3 separate regions of the Homo sapiens genome follow, and all the other regions are linked to region 3. The links come from fine-mapping of genetic effects on gene expression. A gene starts in region 3. Each other region holds a variant in brackets. All regions are shown on one strand. Distances are from middle to middle. Region 1 overlaps TBC1D1 (TBC1 domain family member 1). Region 2 overlaps TBC1D1 (TBC1 domain family member 1). Region 3 holds the start of TBC1D1 (TBC1 domain family member 1).

The links.
Region 1: its variant is fine-mapped to the expression of TBC1D1 in thyroid (GTEx, PIP 0.98).
Region 2: its variant is fine-mapped to the expression of TBC1D1 in whole blood (INTERVAL, PIP above 0.99).

The regions. Positions count from the first base shown.
Region 1 is chr4:37,984,662-37,992,841 of GRCh38, reverse strand. The region is part of intron 2 of TBC1D1 (TBC1 domain family member 1); the gene reads right to left. Among named protein-coding and RNA genes, the nearest start is that of PTTG2, 28 kb to the right of the region's middle. The variant G/A (reference allele first, on the strand shown) is at 3,882.
Region 2 is chr4:37,974,722-37,982,901 of GRCh38, reverse strand. The region is part of intron 2 of TBC1D1 (TBC1 domain family member 1); the gene reads right to left. Among named protein-coding and RNA genes, the nearest start is that of PTTG2, 18 kb to the right of the region's middle. RefSeq lists an enhancer at 621-720 and silencers at 4,964-5,263, 5,284-5,333, 5,454-5,573, 5,644-5,713. The variant A/C (reference allele first, on the strand shown) is at 3,319.
Region 3 is chr4:37,886,177-37,894,356 of GRCh38, reverse strand. TBC1D1 (TBC1 domain family member 1) reads right to left here and starts at 3,273. Exons shown (of 22, transcript NM_001396959.1): 1 at 3,009-3,273. RefSeq lists enhancers at 1,126-1,405, 1,836-1,965 and silencers at 1,666-1,715, 2,745-3,244, 3,565-3,754.

The sequences.
Region 1 (8,180 bases), 98 kb before region 3:
CAGAGTGAGACTCTGTCTCCAAAAAAAGAAAAAAAAAAAAAAAAGAATCGGCCAGGCATGGTGGCTCACACCTGTAATCCCAGCACTTTGGGAGGCCGAGGCGGGCAGATCACGAGGTCAGGAGATCAAGACCATCTGGCTAACACGGTGAAACCCCATCTCTACTAAAAATACAAAAAACTAGCCGGGCGTGGTGACAGGCACCTGTAGTCCCAGCTACTCGGGAGGCTGAGGCAGGAGAATGGCGTGAACCCGGGAGGCGGAGCTTGCAGTGAGCCAAGATCGCGCCACTGCACTCCAGCCTGGGTGATAGAGCGAGACTCCGTCTCAAAAAAAAAAAAAAAAAAACACCAGACTTCTAGTCCTTGACCTTAAAATATCCACATCAAGCTCATTCTCTTTTCCTTAAAATAGGCCTTTCTTCCTACTTCCTTGTTTCCCAAATGCCTTCTAGGTAACTGGGCTCAAAACCTGGTAAGTGGCTTCTGCTCTTCTTTCTCCTTACTCCTTCTTTCCCTCAGCTCTTTGGGTGTATATTCTCTCACCACGAGCCCAAAACCTCAAGCGCTGGTCCGGGCCTACACTTGCTTCAGCCAGACCCCAGCAAGACCTCTCCTCTGCCGCCTCTGGCATCTCCCTACATCCATCCTGCTATCCAGCACAGCCTGATCTTCTGGAAACACAGGTCTGATGGGGTCAGCCTCCTGCTCACAAACCTTCTAGGGCTCCTCTGCAATCCCTACCAGAACAAACACAGTCCTGCTAACCCTCAGGGTCTCCCACCAATGGGGCTCCACTCAACTCTTCCTGCCTTATTTCACCTGGCTTCTTTCTCTGTAAGTTCCGTTTGTACCAAACATGTTTCGAACACACCTCCTAAGCCTCTGTTCATTTGGGTTTCCACCTCCATACCTTTGCTCATGCAGTTTCTTCCACCTGGAATATTCTTTGTCACCCCCTGGATGGGACCTTTGAATCACTCACTCACCTTATTCACTTTCGGGATGAAATGCAGCCACAGGAGGCTGGAATGGCTGGCATCTGGTCACAGAGCCAGGCTAGACACAACTAGACCTCCCCAGTAAGGACTGGTTTTTTAGGCAACACTGGGTCCCTATGATTTGCTTTTATTTGGGATAAAATCGTCCAGTGTAAAATTTCCTTATTAGGCTAAAACCTCTAAGCCCACTAAATTTAAAAAAAAAAAAGAGAGAGAAGAGCTGCCAGTGCCCACATTTCCAGGGACTTGCAGGAATTCTCTGAAACTCACAAGCCTTACCAGGTCTGCATGCTCGTGTTCAGCAGCAGGTGCTAAGTGACTGTAAAGGGCTGTGGTGCCCACCCTGGGGTCTTCATGCAGGGCTTGAGGGTAGAGTCACCCTCTGCCCCATAGTGACAGGCCAGCTGGGCTCCACTGCCTCCATCTACTCAGTCAGGATTAGCACAAAAACTTGTTAGAGAGGTTTAAAGAGCCCCCAGATCAGCGGAGAGGTACTCCAGGACACTGTGGACTGTTCTTAACACCCACACCCAAGCCAAATCTCTGGCACCCAGAATAAAAATGATGTTTTTGAGAAGGACAATATCTAAGTTAACAGTGTATAGTCAGTTCTACTTATCCCTGATCAAAATTAACCGTGAGGTTGTAAAGTGGGATTTACTACATTTGGGAAATTATTACCTCTGTATACCAAGGGGCTACTCAGAGGTTTACAGTTCCCCACCTGCTTTCTGGCAGGCTGACTCTGTGACTGCCTTCACCACCTTCCCCCCACCCACCCCCGCCCCAGGTCAGCAGCTGGGTCTCTCTCATCTTGGCAGTTGTGTCTCAAGTGCCTGCCACAGAGTAGAGGCAAAAGAAATAGATTGTGATCAACACTGAGCTTGAAGCGGCCAGATTTCTTGACCAAGAACGTCTGGAAACACCACACTACTCCCCCAAATAGTGTAGTTATTGCAAAACAAATACAGAGTTGTGTGGTCTGGTGGTCTAGTACATCCAGCTCTTTCCTTGGGGAAAAATATCCAGAGACCACATTCTCAGCTGATTAACACACTAGAGAATTGACAAAAATCAAACTTTGGTACGATGTTCTTTCAGTTACACCAAAACTGGATGGCACAGACTTGAAGGGCTGCTTTTACTGAAACACTAGTGTGATAAAAATCCCTATGTATTATATTCACATATTTCTGGAAATGGAAGGAGAATCCCTTCCCTTCACCTGGAAATTCAGGAATACAGCTTTTTCTGGAACCGTAAGAAGGCTTTGGCCTTAGATGTACTAGCAATATTTCATGCTTATTATACAATTAATTGATTAATAATCAGTACACAAGGGGCCACAAACTCCTTACTCATAAGCGGGCTTTTGGTTGTGTTTCTGAAGTCAAATTTTACAAGTTCTAATACAGGGGTATCCAATCTTTTGGCTTCCCTGGGCCACACTGGAAGAATTGTCTTGGCCCACACATAAAATACATTAACACTAATGATAGTTGATTAGCTTAAAAAAAAAAAACTCAATGTTTTAAGAAAGTTGATGAATCTTTTTTGGGCCACATTCAAAACCATCCTGGCCTGTATGTAGCCCACAGGCCGTGGACTGGACACTTGCTCTAACATTTTAAACTTGGAAACTTACATATTTCTTTTAAAAGCCTAACACAATAGAGACTGTCACAATAGACCAGTGTAAATGTCCCTAAGCAAATAACGTCTCAAAAATCTGACAGTTTATTTCCACCTAATGACTGGTTTCCTTTGGGCCCACCCTTTAAAAAGAACTTCCGCAAAATACCACTTGGCTAATTCTCTGCCTTGGGCAGTCCTACAATTATAAATTCTGCTAAACAAATAAACTTCCTTCCTATTTTTAAAGTATTCCAAAATTGGAAACTCTGTGTCTTTGGTTGGCAAACTATTTTCTGGAGTCTAACAGCCTTAGCCATGAAGAAATTCTTCATTGCACTCTGAGAGACGAAAAAAACCAGAAACTGTCAAGGAGTCCCTCCCTACACCTATTTCAGGGAAGGGGAACTAACCCCACAGAGTTGTGACCTTGGGCAAGGTCACACAGGCTGCTGGTGGCAGAAGCCAATGTCCTCCTCTCTCCCCCATTTTCCCCTTAACTGATCTAAGTTACTTGTGGCCTAAAGAAAGCAGTTTGCTCTTGTTCTGTACTAGGGAACAGGGTTTATGTTTAATTCATGCAGAATGTGCTAGAACAACAGAAAGAATCTAAATATTAGTGTCAGCAAAAAGAATCAATCTCCGTAAAACATTTAAAGAGATTTATTCTGAGCCAGATGTGAGGACCACGACCCATGACACAACCCCAGGAGGTCCTGAGAACACGTGCTCAAGGTGGTCGGGGCTATAGCTTGCTTTATACATTTTAGGGAGACATAAGACATCAATCAATATATGTAAGGTGTACATTGGTTTGGTCTGGAAAGGTGGGACAACTTGAAGGTGGAGGGGAGGTTGCAAGTCATAGGTGGATTCAAATATTTTCTGAGTGGCAATTAGTTGAAAGCGTTATTATCTAAAGATCTGGAATCAATAGAAATAAGTGTGTAGGTTAAGACAAGGTCATAACCTGGGTGAAGACCAAGGTTTTTATCATGCAGATGAGGCCTCCAGGTAGCAGGCTTCAGAGATCTTATCAGACCTAACAAAAAATGTGCCAGACTCTTAGTTAATTCTCTCCTGGTTCAAGGAAAAGATCTGGAAAGTGAAGAGGATTCTTTAGAGAAAGTAGATTTTCCCCATAAGAGACAGCTTTCCAGGGCCATTTCAAAATATGCCAAAGAAATATATTTTGTGGTAAAATACTTCAATTTCTTTCAGGGCCTGCTATGTCAAGTGATGTCAGACT[G/A]CAGTTAGGCTGGAATTTGAGATCTGTTTTGGCAGTCTTAAGATCTCTGTTTTAATGTTTACGCTGGTCAGTTGTGCCTGAATTCCAGAGAGAGGAAGGTGTAATGAAGCATGTCCCCTTTCCCATCACGACCTGAACGAGTTTTTCAGGTTTCTCTGGAATGCCCTTGACTGAGGAGGGGGCGGTCCATCGGTCAGTTGGGGTGCTTCAAATTTTGTTTTTGGTTTCCATTTGAATGAGTGCCAGGTGATGCAAAGAGCTCTGTTTGGATCTTAGCTGTGGCTTTGGGAAAGACATCTCACCTATAGTGGGCTTCATGTTTCTTCATCCTTAAAAAGAGGGAATGCAGCTAAGCAACTACAAAAGTCTTCCTCCACCCCTAAATTCAATGATGATGATGGTTCACGAGTACTAAGTGCTTAATCTAGGTACTAAGTGTGTTATGTGGATAAATCGTCAACCGCTTAGAGGATAGCTGTTTATCATCCCCCCTTTAATGGATGAACACATTAATGTCTAGAGAAAAAAATAACTTACTTAAGGTCATCCCTCCACTGGTAACTGGTGGAGAGATCTGACCTAGACCAATGATTTCAGGGGCCCTTTCCTCCTTATCAAAGGTAGACAATCTAAGATAGTTGGCTTGACTTGCACTCACAGGGACACAGATTCTGAATTGAATACAACTGTAGCAATCATTTAACACAATGTTCTCATTTTATAGATCAAGGACTGAGGCCCAGGCAAGTGTAACTTGCCCTAGGTCAAAAAATGTATTGGAAACACGTGCTACACCCTGCTGTTCCTAGACAAGTTCATCCAAAAGAGTGCTTGACGGTTTACATGCACTTACATCAGCTCACGTGATGCCAAACAAGGCTACCTGATGGGCACCTGGCATTGATCATCTTTCCCACTGTCGCCTAGCCAAGGCTAAACAGCAAACACAGAGCACACTGGGACCTGCACCCCACGCCTGCTACTGCCTGCCTAGTGTGCTATCTATAGGCCGATAAAACATCCACAGTATGATGCTCTGGAGAGTCTATGCAGAATCGACTCCTAAAGAGAACTTTCCAGGTAAGCTGAATAACTATGAAACATGGTTCTGTGGTACTTTGAAAAGAATATCAGAGAATAAGTGAAAACACTCTAAAATCCACAACTCAAGTCAACGAGAAAATGCAATCTCATGTGGTCACTCAAAACTGACCTCTTTCGGTCTATCATTGAATTGTCTTAACCTCCTCCCAATCTTCACCTTCAATCTTCTATGTGATTTTTCTCTTATTTCCTGTTTCCTTCTCTCCCTAACTGAGAACATCACAAAATTCAGGGATTTAAAAAAATGTTACACTTCTTATATAGTTTCCATATGGTATATCTATTTTTAAAAGCAGATTAGTTGAATGTTTTATGTCTCTCACCTAAGAAAGGGGAAAAAAGTTCAGTTTCTCAGTGGAACAAGATATTTTTCTAAGCTCTGCTGCCCTTGTTTCACATATTGAACATGCGTTGTAATCCCCGTTACAGAGACAATGCAGGTACAACAGATAAAATATGAATTTAGAGCCAAACAAGTCAAGCTTTAATCTTATTAGCTAGGACACGGTACCTAGCCTTTCTGAATTTCAGTTTCTTCATATTTCTTTCCTGAAAAAAAAAAAAGTGGAAGGAGGAAATAATACCACTACTGCCACAATTATTTTGAGAATTAAATTAATTATGAGACTTCTAACACAATGGCTGGCACATATAAAGTTCTGAAAAATATAATCATCTCTTCCCTTGTTATTCATGCTAAAATAATTGTCCCTTCTATTAAATGCCATTTGCAGTCGATGTTTTTCTGAGCAAAGTCAATCTCTCATATTAGAGGGAAGAGATCCATTACACACACCTACCCCATCTCCCAGAGGATGCCTTCCGGGAAACAGGAGCACTCAGTGAATGGGTGGGTCACTGCAGCCCAGTGCTAGGGAGCTAAACAGCCACATTAGACATTGGCAACTTGCACTCTCTTCAAATACTCAGGCTGTGCTTCTTCTTGCACAGTTAACACAACTGGTTGGTCCTACCAGGCTGCAGAGACACCCTTCACATATCAAAGGATCCCCACCCACCCCAACCCGACTACTCAGGCTTCCTCTCCTTGCTCATTTCCCTGCAGGCATCTTGACCTGAAATTTGCAAGAATACACTCATCAAGGGGTTAAATAAAGTATCCTGGGTCAGGCACAGTGGCTCGCACCTGTAATCACTTGAGGCAGGCAGATCACTTGAGGTCAGGAGTTCAAGACCAACCTGGCCAACATGGCGAAACCCCATCTCTAGTAAAAATACAAAAATTAGCCAGGCACGGTGGCGGGCACCTGTAGTCCCAGCTACTCTGGAGGCTGAGGCAGGAGAATCACTTGACCCCGGAAGGCAGAGGTTGCAGTGAGCCGAGATCGCGCCACTGCAATCCAGCCTGGGCAACAGAGCAAGACTCCGTCTCAAAAACATAAATAAATAAATAAAGTATTCTGAAATACAATATATTGTTTGATAGATGTGCATAGTTTTGATTTTAGTAAAACAGTTTGAAGATGAAAGTGCAAACAAATCAGCAGAGCAATATTAACAATGTACCTCAAAAACAGGTGTCCAAGAACTTTTTAAGTTCTGCCATAAACTAGCTGTGTGATCTTGTTCAAATCAAGTTACTTCATCGCTCTGGGTGTCAGTTCCCCATGTAGAAAAGAACAAATGGAATTACATTCAAGATGACATTCTGGTTACACCGTAATTACATTACTAAATCCTACTAGAATGACCACCACCCTAAGCCACAATTACTGATAGGTATTTGAGGGCCATAGGCAGTGCTGGTATGAAAGAAAAGGTCTGAGTAATTTATTTATACTGATGTGCCTTCCCCAAGGTTAAAAATCAGTGGTCTCAAAAACAAGGCAAACAGTTGGAAAGCAACCTTGAATCATTCTGAAACATGCTAGAAAACTACCAGTAGTATTTCCTCACTATTCCTTTTCATAATCCACCACATCAATGACCTACAATTACCCTTGACTTCACTCAGACCTCATCTTCTAGTCTCCTCCAAAATCCCAGCTGAGTGATTCTTCGTGCATATATCACATTAAAATTAAATTATCTCCACAGGTCTCCCTCTCCCCATTAGACTGCAAGCTATTCAAGGGCTGGGCCCATGTCCTACTCATCTCAGTATCTACCCTGCCTAATACCACACATGCCATTAACTTAAACTGCCCATTCGACCATGTTTTAAATGGTTTACATCTGAAGATAGTCTTCACAATTTCCTAAGCAGATTTTGACATTAATGGATTTTAAAATAGGAACTATTTTTAAAAAGATAAATACAAAACAAGTATATATTAAGTTCATTTCAGACACAAGAAAACAGGCTCAGCAAAGTTAACTTAGCCAAGTTCAACCAATGTAAAAGAACAGAGCCTGTGAGTCTAATCCCATTATAACATGACAGATATAAAAATGATTTACAGGAAAATAACCAAAGTGCATGAAAATTAAGGTAATTTTTCTGTCAGCTTTTTCATATAAATTTAACAAAAGAGCACAGAGTACTTGTTCACCACTCTTCCAACAACAAAATCAGAAATCATAGAAATTTTAAAATGGAAAAACCAGATACTTAAGATTAGATTCATAAATATCATAAATATAGGCTGGGCGCGGTGGCTCACGCCTGTAATCCCAGCACTTTGGGAGGCTGAGGCAGGCGGATCACAAGGATAGGAGCTTAAGACCATCCTGGCCAGCATGGTGAAACCCCGTCTCTACTAAAAATACAAAAAAATTAGCCAGGCATGGTGGCGCGTGCCTGTAGTCTCAACTACTCGGGAGGCTGAGGCAAGAGAATTGCTTGAACCCGGCAGGCAGAGGTTGCAGTGAGCCGAGATCACGCCACTGCACTCCAGCCTGGGTGACAGAGCAAGACTCCATCTCAAGAAAATATATATATCATAAATATAACCAAATAAAGGTCTTCCTATAGGTTGTACAGATGTTCGTGAATATTACTGTGCATTCTAAAATAAAATTCAAAAGCACTAACATTTTCTTTTTTTTTTTTTTGAGACAGGGTCTCACTCTGTCACCCAGGCTAAGTGCAGTGGCACAATCTTGGCTCACTACAACCTCTGCCTCCCAGGCTCAAGGAATTCTCGTGCCTCAGCCTCCCAAGTAGCTGGGATTACAGGTACACGCCACCACACCCAGCTAATTTTTGTATTTTTCTAGAGATAGGGTTTTGCC
Region 2 (8,180 bases), 89 kb before region 3:
CCTTCCCGTTATTCTCTGCCCTGCTTAGTACATTCGTCAATGAATGAATGATTAATCAGAGGTGCTTCAGGAAAGGAATGAAGGATGAGGAGAGTTTTGATAGAAACAGAAGAACAGGGGACACACATACAGGTTAAAATCAGATTAAAGAATTTGTCTAAGGAAACAAATTATACTTTATCTTTTTTTCTCATCAGGCATTGCTCTGGGCTGTGTTCTATTTGTGGATTAGGTGGGATTTCTATCTCTGCTCTCCTCCATTCTCTTTCAGTAAAACCAACCTACGCCCAAGTTCCTGGCACACTCTAAGCAACTAGAGTTCCCAAAGCCCAAAACACAGCTGCCACCACTACCAGATAAAAAGTGCTCCACAGGAACTCTGCTGAAATCCTGGTCAGGGTTATACCAGCTTTGCTTAGCCGAGGCAGCACATTTTTCAAATTCAAGGAATGGTTTGACTATGACAAGGAGTTCTCCCCTCCTTATTAAACTCAAGCATCCACTAATAAAATGTAGTATGAGTCTACAGAAGAAAAAAAAATTTTAAAACAATACATCACATTAACCTAGGACACACATCAAGGACAAACCAACACTGGACTGACTTCAAGCAACACAAGAAAATTGTTGCCTAAATATTTGCTATAGTCAGATTCACACCTTACATAGGAAGGCTGCTGTGCTGTGTGCTGGTAAACAGAAGGGCAACTCCTACCGCCTACCGGCACCCAAGGTGGGCTGGTCTAGTCTGCAGGAAACCTCAAAGGTAAATAAATAAGCCCAGAGTCAGGACAGAACTTTGCATGGAAGCTGTGCTTAGAAGAAAGAGATGATGGAAGGGCAAGTTGTACTCGTACTCAACATATAAATAGCAATTAGTTACTCGGTTATTTGCACCAAACACAGACAAACAAGATAGCAAAGCCACTGGGTCACATCATTTCAAAATACAGACAATGACTATCCACTGGTATTCCTTTCTTATTACTGAGGTCCAAGCTACCACTATCACCTCCTATCCGAACCAAAACCACCTCCTAAGTGGTCCCTCTGCTTCCATCCGAAATATACATCAGCTGACATCACTCCTCTTTTCCACATCTTTAACGGCTTCTGACTACACTTAAAAGCAAATCCAAACCCCATTCTAAGCCTATGGAGCCATAAACAGCCTGGCCCACCTTACCCCTCCCCACTCAAAGCTCAGTGCTGTGCACCCAGCTGGATATATTCCAGCCATACCTCCCTTCTCCCTGAGGCCTGCCTGGAGCATGTTTCCTGCCCTCTCACCAGTCAGATGGAATGCCACCCCTGCACCACCCCAGCCCGGAGCCACTTACTTCTCTTCCTCGCACTGATCACCATCTGAAATAATCTTGTTCACCTATTTGCTTGCTGCTTTGCTATCTCTCCCATCTAGAATTCCATGAAAACAGGGGTCTGCTTGTCGGTTGCTAAATCCCCAGCTCCTCAAATAGTACCTATTATAGGTAGGTTATCCATAAATATCTGCACTGAACACATTTGTTAAATGACCTGTTGAATGAATGGTGGCTAGATAAACCAATGTTTTAAAAGTAATGCCCAAATACGGAAAACCTGGTTTTACATAAAATATTAATTAGCAATCAGTTACTTGCTTTACAAAAGGATTCTGTGGGCTGGATGCAATGGCTCACACCTGTAATCCCAACACTTTGGGAGGCGGAGGTGGGCAGATCACTTGAGGTCAGGAGTTCAAGACCGGCCTGGCCAACCTGGTGAAACCCTGTCTCTACTAAAAATACAAAAATTAGCTGGGCATGGTGGTGTATGCCTGTAGTCCCAGCTACTAGGGAGGCTGAGGTGGGAGGAGCACTTGAACCCAGGAGGCAGAGGTTGCAGTGAGCCGAGATCGTGCCACTGCACACCAGCCTGGGCGACAGAGTGAGACTCAGGGTCAAAAAAAAAAAAGATTCCTTTTTTAATGCATCTTTAAATATTTAATTTACAAATCTCCAGGGTGCACACTTTTTAAAGGATAATCTATTGTGCAGAGTGAATTAACTCCTCCAGGACATAAACACTGCTTATATACAAAAAGTACCTAATAAAACACTTGTTGAATGAGCACTGGAAAATACACAGTTAAATGCCTTAATTAATACATTAAATACACAGTTAAGTACTTTATTCATAAGGTAAATACTTAATACACACCATAAACTATATGAAACTATACTTGGATTTGAAACACAGCAAACTTGGCTATATTTAGTTCTCATTTTCCATTTTTTCTCATAAACTGACATATGTATATTTAAAATCTACCAACTTGAGATACCAGCAATAATCTTAGCTACAAACTTTATAAGCAGGTGCAAATCCAAATAAATTCTGGAAGTTACTTGGCAGTTCTGCTGCAGTCAGTTTTGACTAACAGATACATGGAGGCATAGAAACAGTAGATATACTCAAAACTGACAGGTTGTTGGGGACATCTGTGAGTTTACTATGAAAATCACAAAGCTTGAGAAGTTCAGTTTTATTTATAAACTGCGTAAAAAGTCAAGTGTCCCCACTGAAAGACTAATCAAGAAATCACACTGCTATAAAGCCCAGCCACATTCTTGATGCAATGTACACCTGCCCTAATGTTCCAGATCATGTCCAATTTTTTTTAAAAGTACATCTTATGTTTTTCTTTCTTCTTTAAACAGATAATCTCTTTAAAACAAAACTCTCCCGTTTTGGCTTTATTCCTACATCATGAAATTGCCCACTCTACACATTCAATATTCACACAATACTAATGCATCGTGCAAGAAAAACACATTCATGCTTGGCCGGGGGCGGTGGCTCACACCTGTAATCCCAGCACTTTGGGAGGCCGAGGCAGGTGGATCACCTGAGGTCGGGACTTCAAGACCAGCCTGACCAACATGGAGAAACCCTGTCTCTATTTAAAAATACAAAATTAGCGGGGGTGGTGGCGCAAGCCTGTAATCCCAGCTACTCGGGAGGCTGAGGCAGGAGAATCACTTGAACCCAGGAGCCAGAGGTTGCAGTGAGCCAAGATTGTGCCATTGCACTCCAGCCTGGACAACAAGAGCGAAGCTCTGTCTCAAAACAAAAAAAAAGAAAAACACATTCGTGCTCAGGTATCCATGTGAATCAACCGACACCCACCCCTTCTCCTTCCCCACCAGGTGTTCAGCTGCAGTTGCAAAGGTCAAAATGAAAAAGGAAAAGGAAAGTCAGCTGCGTAACTGGATGTGCAGGTGTTTGTGTGAGGCCTGTGCTCATGTGCAGCTGTGTGTTTCTGAAGGGGCATTCTGA[A/C]GTCAAATATAACAACTTCAAGATTATTCACATTGTGTACATTATCTATGCCTTTTGTCTTTGTCTTTAGGATATTACCTAGTTTGTAATGTAAAGTGTGTTAATGACTTGCCTCTTCACCGTAAACCACATCAGTTCCATAGAACATCATTCTTACAATCTATAACTCCAAGAAATAAACTTCCAAAGACTAATTTCGTATTCTAAAATCTTTCACAGGATAACACGTTATCTATAAAAATCATTCAATTTCGGGATATAATTTGTAATGCATGCACCACCTACAGGAAATGAAATATAAAATAACCACATTTTAAAAATGTATGCTAAGAGGTATACATGAATTTGCTCCAAAAACATTTAATAGTTTTTCCGCTGTTGTCCTGTAATCGAAATAATAATTTTGAGGGCGGGTGTGGTGGCTCACATCTGTAACCCCAGCACTTTGGGAGGCCAAGGTGGGGGCATTACTTCAGCCCAGGAGTTCGAGACCTGCCGGGCCAATATGACAAAACCCCATCTCTACTGAAAATACAAAAATTAGCTGGGAGTGGTGGCGCACAGCTGTAATCCCAGCTACTGGGGAGGCTGAGACACAAGAATCGCTTGAACCTGGTAGGTGGGGGTTGCAGTGAACTGAGATCGCACCACTGCACTCCAGCCTAGGTGACAAGAGTAAGACTCTGTCTCAAAAATAATAATTTTGAAATAACAAGATTCAGAATCCAAATTAAGCTACCAGCCTACATTTCCTCTATATAAACTTTTCCAACGTACTGACACTCGGAGAAGGCTAACAATCGTCCTAAAAGTCTGTGATGGTTTTTGAAATGACTTTTTAATGACTCAAAACGTTTTTGAAAGTCATCTCATTTTACCACCAGCTATGTTTCAGGAAGTGATTCTAATGGAATGTTATTTACCTAGTAAGAAAATCTACCTAAAAACTTTTGCCCATCTAAAAACTAGTGTTATCTAGTTTCTGTGTCTCCAATTTTGTATCACTTAAATCACAGGCAAAGCCATACCTGCTCACAAACAGGTATTCATAAAAATGTAATTAAATAAGACTATAAAAGCATTGCATGATAACTCAAGACATAACCACCACCTAATTAAATTATTAATTGGTAAAGCCTCACAGTATGGCTAACGAGTTGTGAGCTTATTACTCAACCAGCCATACACAGGAAACAAGCCCTGGGAAGGCGCCGGCCAAGGGACTGAGTGCATGGGGTGACAGCAAGATGCCCTAACGACCAGCGAGCCTTTCAAGGTGGCGAGGGTCGCATCCTTTAAAACACATTCAGACACCTGGCACTGCAGGAGTGGATAAAAAGAATGCTATTGATGCTATTACTGTGTTCTCGAACTGGTGGGAACTCGGGAAATCTACACTTATGCCTTCCTGTTAGCAACAGTGCAACTGGCCTGGATTTGCACCACCCAGTTATCTCGAAGGCGCTGATGTTCTGAAAATAAAACTTTGTGGGAATGGAAAGTTAAAAACTTCTATTTAAAACTCAGACCTCAGAACATGCCCTTTGAAACCAGAGGGTTAAAAACGAAAGACAGACGCCCCTTGTGGGCACCAGCCTCTGGGCATCCTCGGCGCCCTGTCCAGGCGGCCCAGCGCAAGCCGACTTCTGCGAGGGAGACACACGAGGGCGACACCCGCGAGGGAGACACGCGGGGTCGACTTCCGCGAGGTCCCGCGCCGGGGAGGCACCGAGCGGCAGCTCCGCGGCGCGGGGAGCGACAGGGGCCGGAGGAGCCGCCTGCTGGGTTCGGGCTCCCGCAGGGGTCCCCGAGTACAGCCTCAGTCTCCCCAACTGTGAAATGGGCGCCGCTACCTCGCCCGTCCTCCCCACAGGGATCTGGGAGACTAATGAATGAGAAACGCGCGGCTAACGACCTGGTCGCGCCCGCCGCTCGCCCCCCGCCGCGCCTGGCCTCCAGCGGCCCGGCCCAGCCCCGGCCCGAAGGTTACAAATGTTCCAGCCCCGCGCCTGCCGCTCCGCTCCGGTAACGGGCGCCCGCCCGACGCCGCCTACCTTGGCCACCCAGCTGAACAATGGTGACATCGCGGGCCGGGCGGCGGCTCTTCGCCCGCCGGCTCCCGCTCACTCCCGCCGCCGGCCCGTGGGCCCGCGGGCGGCCGGGGGCGGGCTTGGGGAGCGGCGGGGCCGGGGCATCGCTCTCCCCGGCGGCGGCGGCGGCGGCGGCGGGCTCCACCCAGTTCGTCACTGCCCCGAGAGGTCGCGCCCGCGGGGCGGCCAGGCAGAGAAAGGGAAGTGGGAGGGGAGAGCGCGGGGAGGGGGTGGGCGGGGGGAGGAGGGGAGAGGAGGGGAGGGCGCGCAGCCGACCCCGCCCACCCCCGCGCTCCGCTGCTGGCGGGAAGTTGGGACATGCTGGGGTCGCCCCCTTCCGAGATGCCCAGGGCTGCGCAGGAAACCCTGGAGGCTGGGGACGCGCCTTTCCAGGCCTCTGGGGTCCGTTTCGCACAACTTTCAGAAATCTAAGAATTCCTCCCTCTCCGAGGTTCCACAAAAGCCCCAGAGTTGGAGCTAACACAAAGCCCGCCCAACTTTCCAGGGGTGACCCCCACCCCCAGGGCTTTTCTTCCTAAGCGCTTTAGATTGCTAGTAACAAAAGACCAGTGTTCCCCAGCCCCTAATACCTTTATATAATCAAAGGTGGTTTTCTTGGAGTCAGGAAACTCGGCCATTGAGACCAAAAGTGGGGCAGAGGAAAAAGAACCATTTAGCTCCTGCCTGCCAGGAGGCTTTAGCAACTTGAGAAATGTTGATTTCACCATAGTTTTCTTCTCTCCCAAGGCAAGATGATGAGACAAGGTGGTCAGTTTATGGCTACAAAGGTAAAGCTGAGTTTCAATCCCAGCCACTCCTGAGTTCCACGTTGAAAAAAAAAAAAGTCCAAAGGTTTAATCGCTGATGTGTTATGCATGTGTCAGGTGGAACCACTCACTGAGTTCCTCAGGCCAAATGGCCAACCCAGCCCAAGAATTCTGCTTCTCTTTTCCTTCTACTAATTGTGCATTATCTTCTTGAAGGACCATTGGGACATTTTAATGTTGTTCCCTAAATATCTGGCATCTGAGTTTAGTGAGGGTATTAGCTACCTATTGCTGTATAAAAAGTTACCCCAAAACTGAGAAGCTTAAAACCACAAACAACTTCTGTGGGTCAGAAATCCAGGAGCATCTTAGCTGGATGGCTCTGGCTGAAAGTCGCCCTAAAATTTCAGCCAAGCTGTTAACTGAGGCTGGAGTCATCTCAAGACTGGCCTGGGACTGAAGGATCCACTTCCATGCTCATTCACATAGGTGTTGCCCGTATTTAGTTCCTCGCAAGCTGCTGGACTCAGGGCCTCTGTTTCTTGCTGTTTCTTTCCATAGCACTGATCAGAAAATGGCAGTTTGTATCCCCCAGCACAAGTGATCCAAGAGAATGCACAAATCCAAAAACAGTGTTTTATGAATTAAGATGTGACATCCCAACACTTTTGCTCTATTACTGTTTGTGAAAAACCAAAGACATAAGTCTAGTCCACACTTAAGGGGAGGAGATAATATAAGGACATGAATATCAAAAGGAGAGGATCATGGGGGATTGTGGGCGGCAAGCCACCCAGCTGCCAAGGCAAGAGACCCAGGGCACGAGCTGTTCCAGTATAATAAAATATATAAAATAAGAATAGTTATACTAGATATAGATCTTAGATATGATTATATATGAATATCATTAATCATTAGTTTGTAGCAATTATTCTTTATTCCAATATTATAATAATCCTCGCTCTACAATCATAACCTAGGAAAAACCAGGCCATACAGAGATAGGAGCTGAGGGGACATAGTGAGAAGTGACCAGAAGACAAGAGTGCGAGCCTTCTGTTATGCCCGGACAGGGCCACCAGGAGGGCTCCTTGGTCTAGCGGTAACACCAGCATCTGGGAAGACGCCTGTTGCCAAGTGGACTGTGGTCTAGCGGTAGTGTTAGTGTCAACAAAAAACACCCGCTACTTAGCAGACCGGGAATGGGAGTCTCCCTTTCCCCGGGGGAGTTTAGAGAAGACTCTACTACTCCACCTCTTGTGGACGGCCTGACTGATGTCAGGCCTGCCCGCAGTTATCCAGAGGCCTAACCATCTCCCTGTGATGCTGTGCTTCAGTGGTCACGCTCTTAGTCTGCCTTCACGTTCCATCCTGTACACCTGGTTCTGCCTTTTAGATAGTAGTAGCAAATTAGTGAAAGTACTAAAAGTCTCTGATAGCAGAAATAATGTTGTAAGCTGTCTCTCTCTTTCTCTTCTCTCTCTCTCTGCCTCGGCTGCCAGGCAGGGAAGGGCCCCCTGTCCAGTGGACACGTGACCCATGTGACCTTACCTATCATTGGAGATGGCTCACACTCCTTACCCTGCCCCTTTGTCTTATATCCAATAAATATCAGCACAGCCTGGCATTCGGGACCACTACCGGTCTCCACATCTTGGTGGTAGTGGTACCACGGGCCCAGCTGTCTTTTCTTTTATCTTTTTGTCTTATGTCTTTATTTCTACACTCTCTCGTCTCTGCACACGGGGAAAAAACCCACCAACCCTGTGGGGCTAGACCCTACAGGGGATGATAGGGTTTCATCTTTTTTCCACCCTTGTGGTTTTATCTGGTGCATAGGAATAGATAAAACCGTAAAGGCATAGAGAGGCTGGGCGTGGTGGCTCATGCCTGTAATCCCAGCACTTTGGGAGGCCAAGGCAGGTAGATCACCTGGGGTCAGGAGTTCAAGACCACCCTGGCCACCATGGCGAAACCTCGTCTCTACTAAAAATACAAAAAATTA
Region 3 (8,180 bases):
AAAGGGACACATTGCCCCTGCATCTAAGACCTCATCAAATGGAACTTTTGGCTTAGAAATGTCAAAAACTGGTCGGGCGCCGTGGCTCACACCTGTAATCCCAGCACTTTGGGAGGCCAAGGCGGGTGGATCACAAGGTCGGGAGTTCAAGACCAGCCTGGCCAAGATGGTGAAACCTCGCCTCTACTAAAAACACAAAATTTAGCCGGCCGTGGTAGAGCACGCCTGTAGTCCCAGCTACTTGGGAGGCTGAGGCAGGAGAATCACTTGAACCCAGGAGGCGGAGGTTGCAGTGAGCTGAGATCACGCCACTGCACTCCAGCCTGGGTGACACAGCAAGACTCCTTTCAAAAAAAAAAAAAAAAGTCAAAAACCTTGAAGCATGAAAACCTTCATGTCTTTCGTGAAGAATCTGGTCTAAAGATATTTTTTATTGGAATGTGGTGTTGGAAAGGAAGAAAAGTCAGTGAAGGAAATTGTAAGGTAACAGTTCTGACTGAAAACCTAAATCCTTCGTCATCACTACAGGGATACAAACCCCAACACTACTCTGCTGCTGAATGGACTCAGTGGCACGATCATGTTTCACTGCAACCTCCGCCTCCTGGCTTCAAGCGATTCTCCTGTCTCAGCCTCCCAAATAGCTGGGACTACAGGCACATGCCACCATGCCTGGCTAGTTTTTGTAGATCTATATTTTTGTAGAGACAGGGTTTTGCCATGCTGGCCAGGCTGGTCTCGAACTCCTGACCTCAAGTGATCCACCCGCCTTGGACTCCCAAAGTGCTGGGATTACAGGCATGAGCCACCATGCCTGGCCATGGACTCAGTCATTTTAATGAGCAGATTTTACTTCTCAAGTTTAATGACCAAGAGATGAAAACTGCTGAGAAATATATAAAATATTGAAACTAACGTGGTCATTAAACTTGAGAAGGGCAGCACGGTAGACTGGAAAAGGGCAAAACAAATGATCCTGAGGCACCCACACATATACAGGAAGTCCCCAAATGGGCCGTGATACATTTTCAGTCCTCTGGGAATCTGAAAAGAGCAAAAACTGGGGACCTACAGAGAAATGCTGTGGAGAGAGTAGGAAGGACTTCAGGGAGCTGCCATTCTGTCAGATCAAATTAAAAGCATGTTCAAAGACAGAATCCTCTTGAGCCCCTTGCTCTCCTCCCTACCATCTACTCTAGAAAGCTGGTGGCCAACAGAGCAGGCAGCTGTGGTGCCTGCTCCAGGCACCAAGACAACTGAAGATGCTGCTGTGAACACAGAAGAGGTAACAGCCATGCTGCTTGATTCAGGCTCCCCACTGCTTGCCAGGGTTACATCCTAGAAGATCCTAGAAGATCTGGACCACAAAAAAGCCACCCGCCCACATCTGGCTCTGCATAGGGGTACATCTCATTGTCATTGCAGCCTTCCTGGTCAAAGCTGTCTTCTAGGGAAGTGGGGGACAGGGATTATCACCAGCTGGATAATGAGGAAGAAGGGGCAAGCTCTGTTGCTTCAGAGTTGCACGTTTCCTCCTAATACCCACTAGTGTTTTGACAAACTGTGCCTTATGGGACACCAGGTCAACACTGCATGACTGCCACCCAACCAGAAATGCTGTCGTGGTGAAAAGGGGAAGCCCCAGCACTCTCAGTGGGGTAGATAACAATAGACTATGACAAGGAGACGCATTTGCAAAATTTTCCTTTGAAAACGTAATGTAATAATTTATAACTACACTAGTGATTTTTTTTCCTATTCTCCTGGTTTGCAAATGGCTGGACAAATCCACAGGAAAGAAATTATTTTAATTATCACCTGATGATTTTATTTCCTGCTTTGAACCACTTAGTCCCTTCCAGGTCTCCTTGCACTCAATAGTGTTAGAATGCTCTACTTGTGTTCACTTCAGAAAATGTCCCCTAAACTCTTTTTTTTTAAGAGATGGGATCTCACTTTGTCACCCAGGCTCCAGTGAGGTGGCACAGTCATAGCTCACTATGGCCTCGAACTCCTGGGCTCAAGTGATCCTCCTGCCTCAGCCTCCCAAGTAGCTGGGACTACAGGTGGGTGCCACCACCCCTAGCTCATTGAAAAAGTTTAGAAGTTTGAACTTGTACAGATAGCTGAGTTTCTTGGGTGTGACCTATTTAAACCAGGTCATTTTTAAATGCTCTTTCAAAGTCTGATTTTATTAATAAATGAAATCATCCCATCATAAGGGAAACAATGAGAAATCTATGAAGGGAAAACATATCCATTAATATGAGGCACCCTGAAAATTAAACTGTTTGGTGGAAGGAACAACCATCACTTTCAATTTCTTTTTAAAGCAACTTCCAGAGAATAAGCTATGTTAAGTAAAATCAAAACAGGAAAAGCCACATCTAGGTGGATTTCAAACGAAATGATACCTCTCTGAAAAAAAAGCAAAAACAAAACCTTAATGCCTGGTGAAGTTTGAGGGGGGTCTCATAATCACAGAGCCATCAGGAAGCGGCTAGAAACAATGAAGCAGGGTTTCAAAATGACTGGTACAGGATGTACCCATAGAAAGAAATGTTGCGCGCACTGGTGGAGCTGCCAAAGTTACTACTGCAAAGTACCCTGAACTTTTAAAGCGTGGCTTGGGGTCACTCTGACCACACTCTTTCCAATCTGGTCGCCTTGCAAACACGCTAGGATAATTGGCGGGAGGGGGGAGGGGAGAGATGCGCGGACCAGTGAGCTGGCGGGGGTTGGGGGAGAAGCCGGCGGAGCTCTCGGGTCGCTAGCAACATTAAGGTTTCGCTTTCGTCCAAGGGCGGCGGGGGTGGGGGGGTAAGGGGGGCAACGAGATGGCAATGAACTTCCTCCCCCGAGAGACCCTGGCCTCGCGTCCGTGGGCGGCCAGATGCCTTCCCCTCCGCGGCCAGGCGGGGCAGGGGCGTGCTGCGGGAGGGGGCGGCCGCGACGCCCCGAGAGGAGCCAGCAGGGTGGCCAGGACGAAGCCCCAGGAAGCGCCTTACCTGTGCCGCGGCGCGCTCAGAGCCCGGGGCCGGGCCGGGACGCGCAGGTGCTTGGGGGCATCCTGGGGACGGCCTGGGCGGGCGGGGAGTCCATCGCACCCGGCTGGCTGCGCTCTTCCCGCCGCGGGGGGACGGGGAGGGGGCTCCCCTCGGCTCGGCGCCCGCCTCTTCTCCACCCAGCTGAGGACACAGCAGGTCCCGCGGCGGCGGCAGCAACAGGCACCGGCGGACGGTGGCGGCACCAGGAGCAGCAGCCGAAGAGGAGGAGGAGGAGGAGGAGGAAGAAGAGGAGGAGAAGGAGGAGGTGTCTGCGCGCGGCTCTGGTTTCCTCCTCCCAGCCTGGGCGAGCGCGCTGGAGGCGAGGGGAAGACAGGAGCCGGGATCTCCCCACTCGGTCCCCGGGGAGCTGGGAGGGGGACTCGGTGTCCTCCTCCTCCCCACTGCGCCGTGTGACTGTGCCTGGGCAGCACGGCCCGGACGGGCGAGTCACACGCGAGCAACAGCTGCTGCACTGCGGGTCCGCCGCGGCCTCCCTCCCCTCCTTGCCACCCCCCGCCCCCAAGCCCGCGGGCCATCCTCAGCCAGTGTCTGTGGGGGGAATAGGGGGGAAGTACTCGGGCCGCCGCCCCATCCAGACCCCTGCGCAGGATCTGGGCACAGCGTTTCCCTGGGGAGCCGGGGGCGCGGGGCCCCGCGCGTGATGCAGGCCCTCGTGGCGGGATGTACAGTCGCACACCCTGTCCTTGGCGGCCTATTTATAGCAGGTGGCACTGCCCGCCGCTTGCTCGGCCTGAGTGGCTCTCAGCAGGTGGCACTGCCTGCCCGCTCTCCGCGCTCCCGAAGGCGCCTCGCCTCATCTGCACCCTCCTCTTCTCCCTCCGAAACAGACGTGGTGGAAACTGCACACAACATGGGGGGCGGGGGCCGGGGGCGACCAAGCCACCTTGCTCTCCCCCGCCTTACCCCTTCTCCCCGTCCTTGGAGGATGGCAAGAGGTGAACTGAGGCACGGATGCCCTATGGGGCGCTGGCATGCGAGGCAGGAAAATCAGGGACTCTGGGAAACAACGAAGGCGAAGTGCCCTCCCGGGATTAAACACCAGGAAACTCCATTTCTAACCAATTGCGGGAGTGACGCAGAGCCTGGATTAGGCGCTTTTTCCTGCCCCGCGAGCCCGGCACACGCGCAGGAACACACACCACACGCACACGCACACCCCAGTGTGCATGCCCCGATCAGGTCTGGGGACATTCCCAGCGGTGATGTAGAGTGCAAGGAAAGACGCGGAGATGTGAAAAGCGGGACAGAGCTCGCTCCCTAAGACTAGGGGATGGCAGTGTGCAAAAAACAGGCGAAGCTCCCAGATCCCTATCCCACCAGGCACAGAGGCGCAACGTCACTCGCAGGGTGGGGAGAGGGATCTGAGAAAAGTAAGAAGCATCACATCCTCTCCAGAGAAGAGTCCGCAGGGAGGGGAGAGCCGGGTGCTCGGAGGAGGCAGTTCCAGACCCCCAGGTGGCATCTTTCTGGATTTTTTTACTTAATGTAGCTGGGGGTGGACTTTAGGGAAGTGGCTGAGCGTTTGAGCTGTACGGTTGGACTTGAATCCAAATCCCAGCAGGTGTGGTTTAGGCAAGGTGCTGGACCTCTGGTCTTCATTGTCTTACCTGCTAAATGGGACCAATACACACCTTACAGGATCTTTGTGAGGACAAAGCAGGAAAGTGTAAGTAAAGTGGCCAGTGCAGTGACACAGACGTACATGGTCCTCAACTAAAAGCAGCAGCTATTATCAATATTACTGTGGCCCAGGAGGCAAATAGAGGGCCAGGTTTCCTCATCGTACCAAGAGCAGTGTCTTCCTTGAAGCCCACTGAGCTTCTTGTAGGCTTTTAGATTAGGGCTGTCTTATGGCATTCCCTGATTTCCCTGGATGCTTACATCCAGGGGAGGTATTTTTAAGTGGACCCAAGAGTTTTATTCACAGCTTGACTTAAAACTCTCACAATAGTGGTAGCTATTCTTTACGGAGGAGTTAGTCGATTTGGGGTATTGTGCTAGATACTGTCCTTATATATTGTTGCTAATTTGCTCAAAAACTCTGCAGGGCAAAGATTGTTAAATCCATTTGACTAAGGAGAAAAGTAAGAGGTTAGTGCCTACAGGGTTAGTGGGTGCTGGAATCTCCAAGATCCAAAGCCCTTTATAATATACTTGCTCTCTGGCCACTGTGTAGCCCTCAGCTCATTCTTTGTCATTGAGTAGTTATTTGTGTGCATAGCCTCAACTCTTTTTTAAGAAATATACAGTCATAAATACTGTAATGAGTAGAATGTTAACTGGGTTATGGAAATTATTCTTTAGGTTACAAGACCAGGTAAACCAGTTAAACCATATTGTTATCACTTGGGTCATATCCCAAATTATTTCATGTTTTTACCTTCAACTCTGTTGTAGAACTCTCTCTCCCTGTCTGCAGTGACCTGCTGCACACATTTACCTCCAGAGTGCTAGGAGGTCGAGAAAGGTACACTAGCATTCATTTCATTGACACTGTAAACTGCTTTTTGTATGTAACCCACCAGAGGATGGTTGAAACTGTTACCTAACAACCCTGCTTGCCAGGCCCTGCTCCTGGGAAAAGGGGTCAGGCCAAGGGGAACAGAGATAATTTGCTGGGCTCTGCTTACAGAACATCCTGGCTAGAGCCCCCTCCCATCCTGCCACTCCACTACCTTTTCTTTCCCTCACTTGCTCACCTCCTCTACCCTCTCTTCACCCTTACCCCTAGTCCCAGAGTACAGGAAGGCTTAAGTACAGGTAGGCAGCCAGGCGGGGTGCCTAACCAGAATACAGATGTAGGAAGTCGATGGGTGGGGCCCAGATGCAGGCCCAGGCCTCATATCTCTCAAAGCATTGACATCCAGCAAGTTCCAGCTCAGAGATTTATAATTTAGTGGCAAATGACCATTTGCCTTGACCCTTACCTAGGTTAGGGAGAGGTCATGGCCTTGTGAGAAGCAGCAATTTCTGCATCACTTTTCCAGCTCCCAGGACAGCTAGCACCCTAAGAATGATGAGGAGGGATTTTACCATACTTTCAACTTCTGGGAAACAGAACTCCCTCTATAGTATGCAATAAGGATTGTTGAAATTCTTTTTAAAATCTATACAGCATTATCTTAGAAATTAGGGGACAGCTTGCTATCAATCTATTTGGCCTTAGGTTTTCTAGCAGTTGTAGAACAAATAGTAAAGGGGACTTTGAAGCAGATGGTGATACCTGGTATGGCAGGATGAAGACTGTCAAATGTGGTTGGGGAGATCCATACTGGCCCAGTGCAGAGTGCAGAAGTAAGAGCTCACCACTCAGCTCTTACCTGCAGGTGCCATTGCTCTAGGAGGGAAGTAGCTCCTTCCCCTTGATATGTGGCCACGTGACTCCCAGGAGAGCTGGTACACACCATGGTAGAAGCGTGGGCCAATGGGGCCTTGGTGATGGCAACAGAGAGCTCCCTCAAGGCCCAGGAAGGTGTTCTGTTGGTCCCTCTTTAAGTCACCGATAACAAAAGCAAGCAGAGAATAGGGCCAAATGCTCCAATGATTCTGCTTCAGCTTCTGATTCTTCTGACGGAGTATGACCCAGGAACACAAGGAGTGTGGAGCTCTTCACCACCATGGGCATTTAGCTGACATCAGCTATGGACCCATTGGCTCAGCGAGTGAAAACCCTGATGCGAAGGCACCGACCATCATGGCTGCTGCACTTTTCCTGTCTGGACAACTTCCGCACCTCCAGCTCTTCCCAAAATCCTGCCATGGATCATTCTTTTAGGGCTTCTCCCATAGACTCTTTCCTAATTTAGCTATTTGCAGCATAATTAGTTATTCATTGCCAAAAGCCAGGAACATTAATATCAGCTTTAAGATGGCTGCAGAGCTCTAGAAAATTGTGAACCATCGATGCTATTAAATCACATGAAAAGCTCAGAGCCTGAAAGAAAACAGAGGCCACTTTACTTTTAAAAAGTTAAGGGAACCATGGGAACCATATATACATCTAGAATTAAAATCTTTCGTTGATGTAGAAAGAAGACCTTTAACAAAATTAATCATCATTAAATCCATCAGTTAGGTATTTAAATGCTCATATTAGTTAGGAATCCAAACTATTGCTATTATATATTTTTACTTAAATTCAAAATGTGCATAATAAGGTAGTGGGTCCATTTCCAAAAAATGGCATCAATAAAGGCAAAAAATAAGACTATACTGGCTAGAACCCTAGGATAGTAAGGTGGTTCACTGGGTATGCTTGTTCCCATTGATTGATAGTGACTTTCTGGAGCCCTGAGTGGACGAGGCTTGTAAGGCAAGTCCATGCTCAGTGGGAAAGGGTGCAAGATTGAGAAGCAGCACCTGCCTCAAGCATGGGAGGAGGCAGCATTGCAACACCAGCGCCAGGTAATTTGCCAACCCTGTCAATCCAAGGCATAACAGTTAGATCTAAAGAGTTTGTGAAGGCTGGGGTGGTGGCTTATCCTATAATCCCAGCACTTTGGGAGGTTGAGGTGGGCTGATCACTTGAGCCCAGGAGTTGGAGATGAGCCTAGGCAACATGACAAAACCTCTATAAAAAAATACAAAAAAAAAAAACTTAGCTGGGCGTGGTGTTGCACACCTGTAGTTCAAGCTACCCAGGAGGCTGAGGTGGGAGGATGGTTTGAGCCCTGGAGGTTGAGGCTGCAGCAAGCTGTGATGACACCACCACACTCCAATCTGGGTGTTGGAGTGAGAAACTGTCTCTAAATAATAATAATAATAACATAGAGTCTGTTAAGTTATGCCCAAATATCTTGTTTTCTTTCTTTTCTTTCTTTCTTTTTCTCTTTCTCTTTCTCTTTCTTTGTCTTCCTCTTTCTTTTTCCTTCCTTCCTTCCTAGCTTTCTTCCTAATTCTTTCTTTCTTTCCTTTGGTTTTGTTTTCTGAGACAGGGTCTGGCTCTGTTGCCCACGCTGGGGTGCCGTGGTGCCTTCGTGGCTCACTGCAGCCTCGACCTCTTGGGCTCAAGCTATCCTCTGCTCAGTGTTCTGAGTAGCTGGGACTACAGGCGCACACCACCACACCCAGCTAATTTTTAAGTGTTTTGTAGACACAGGATTTCGCTGTGTT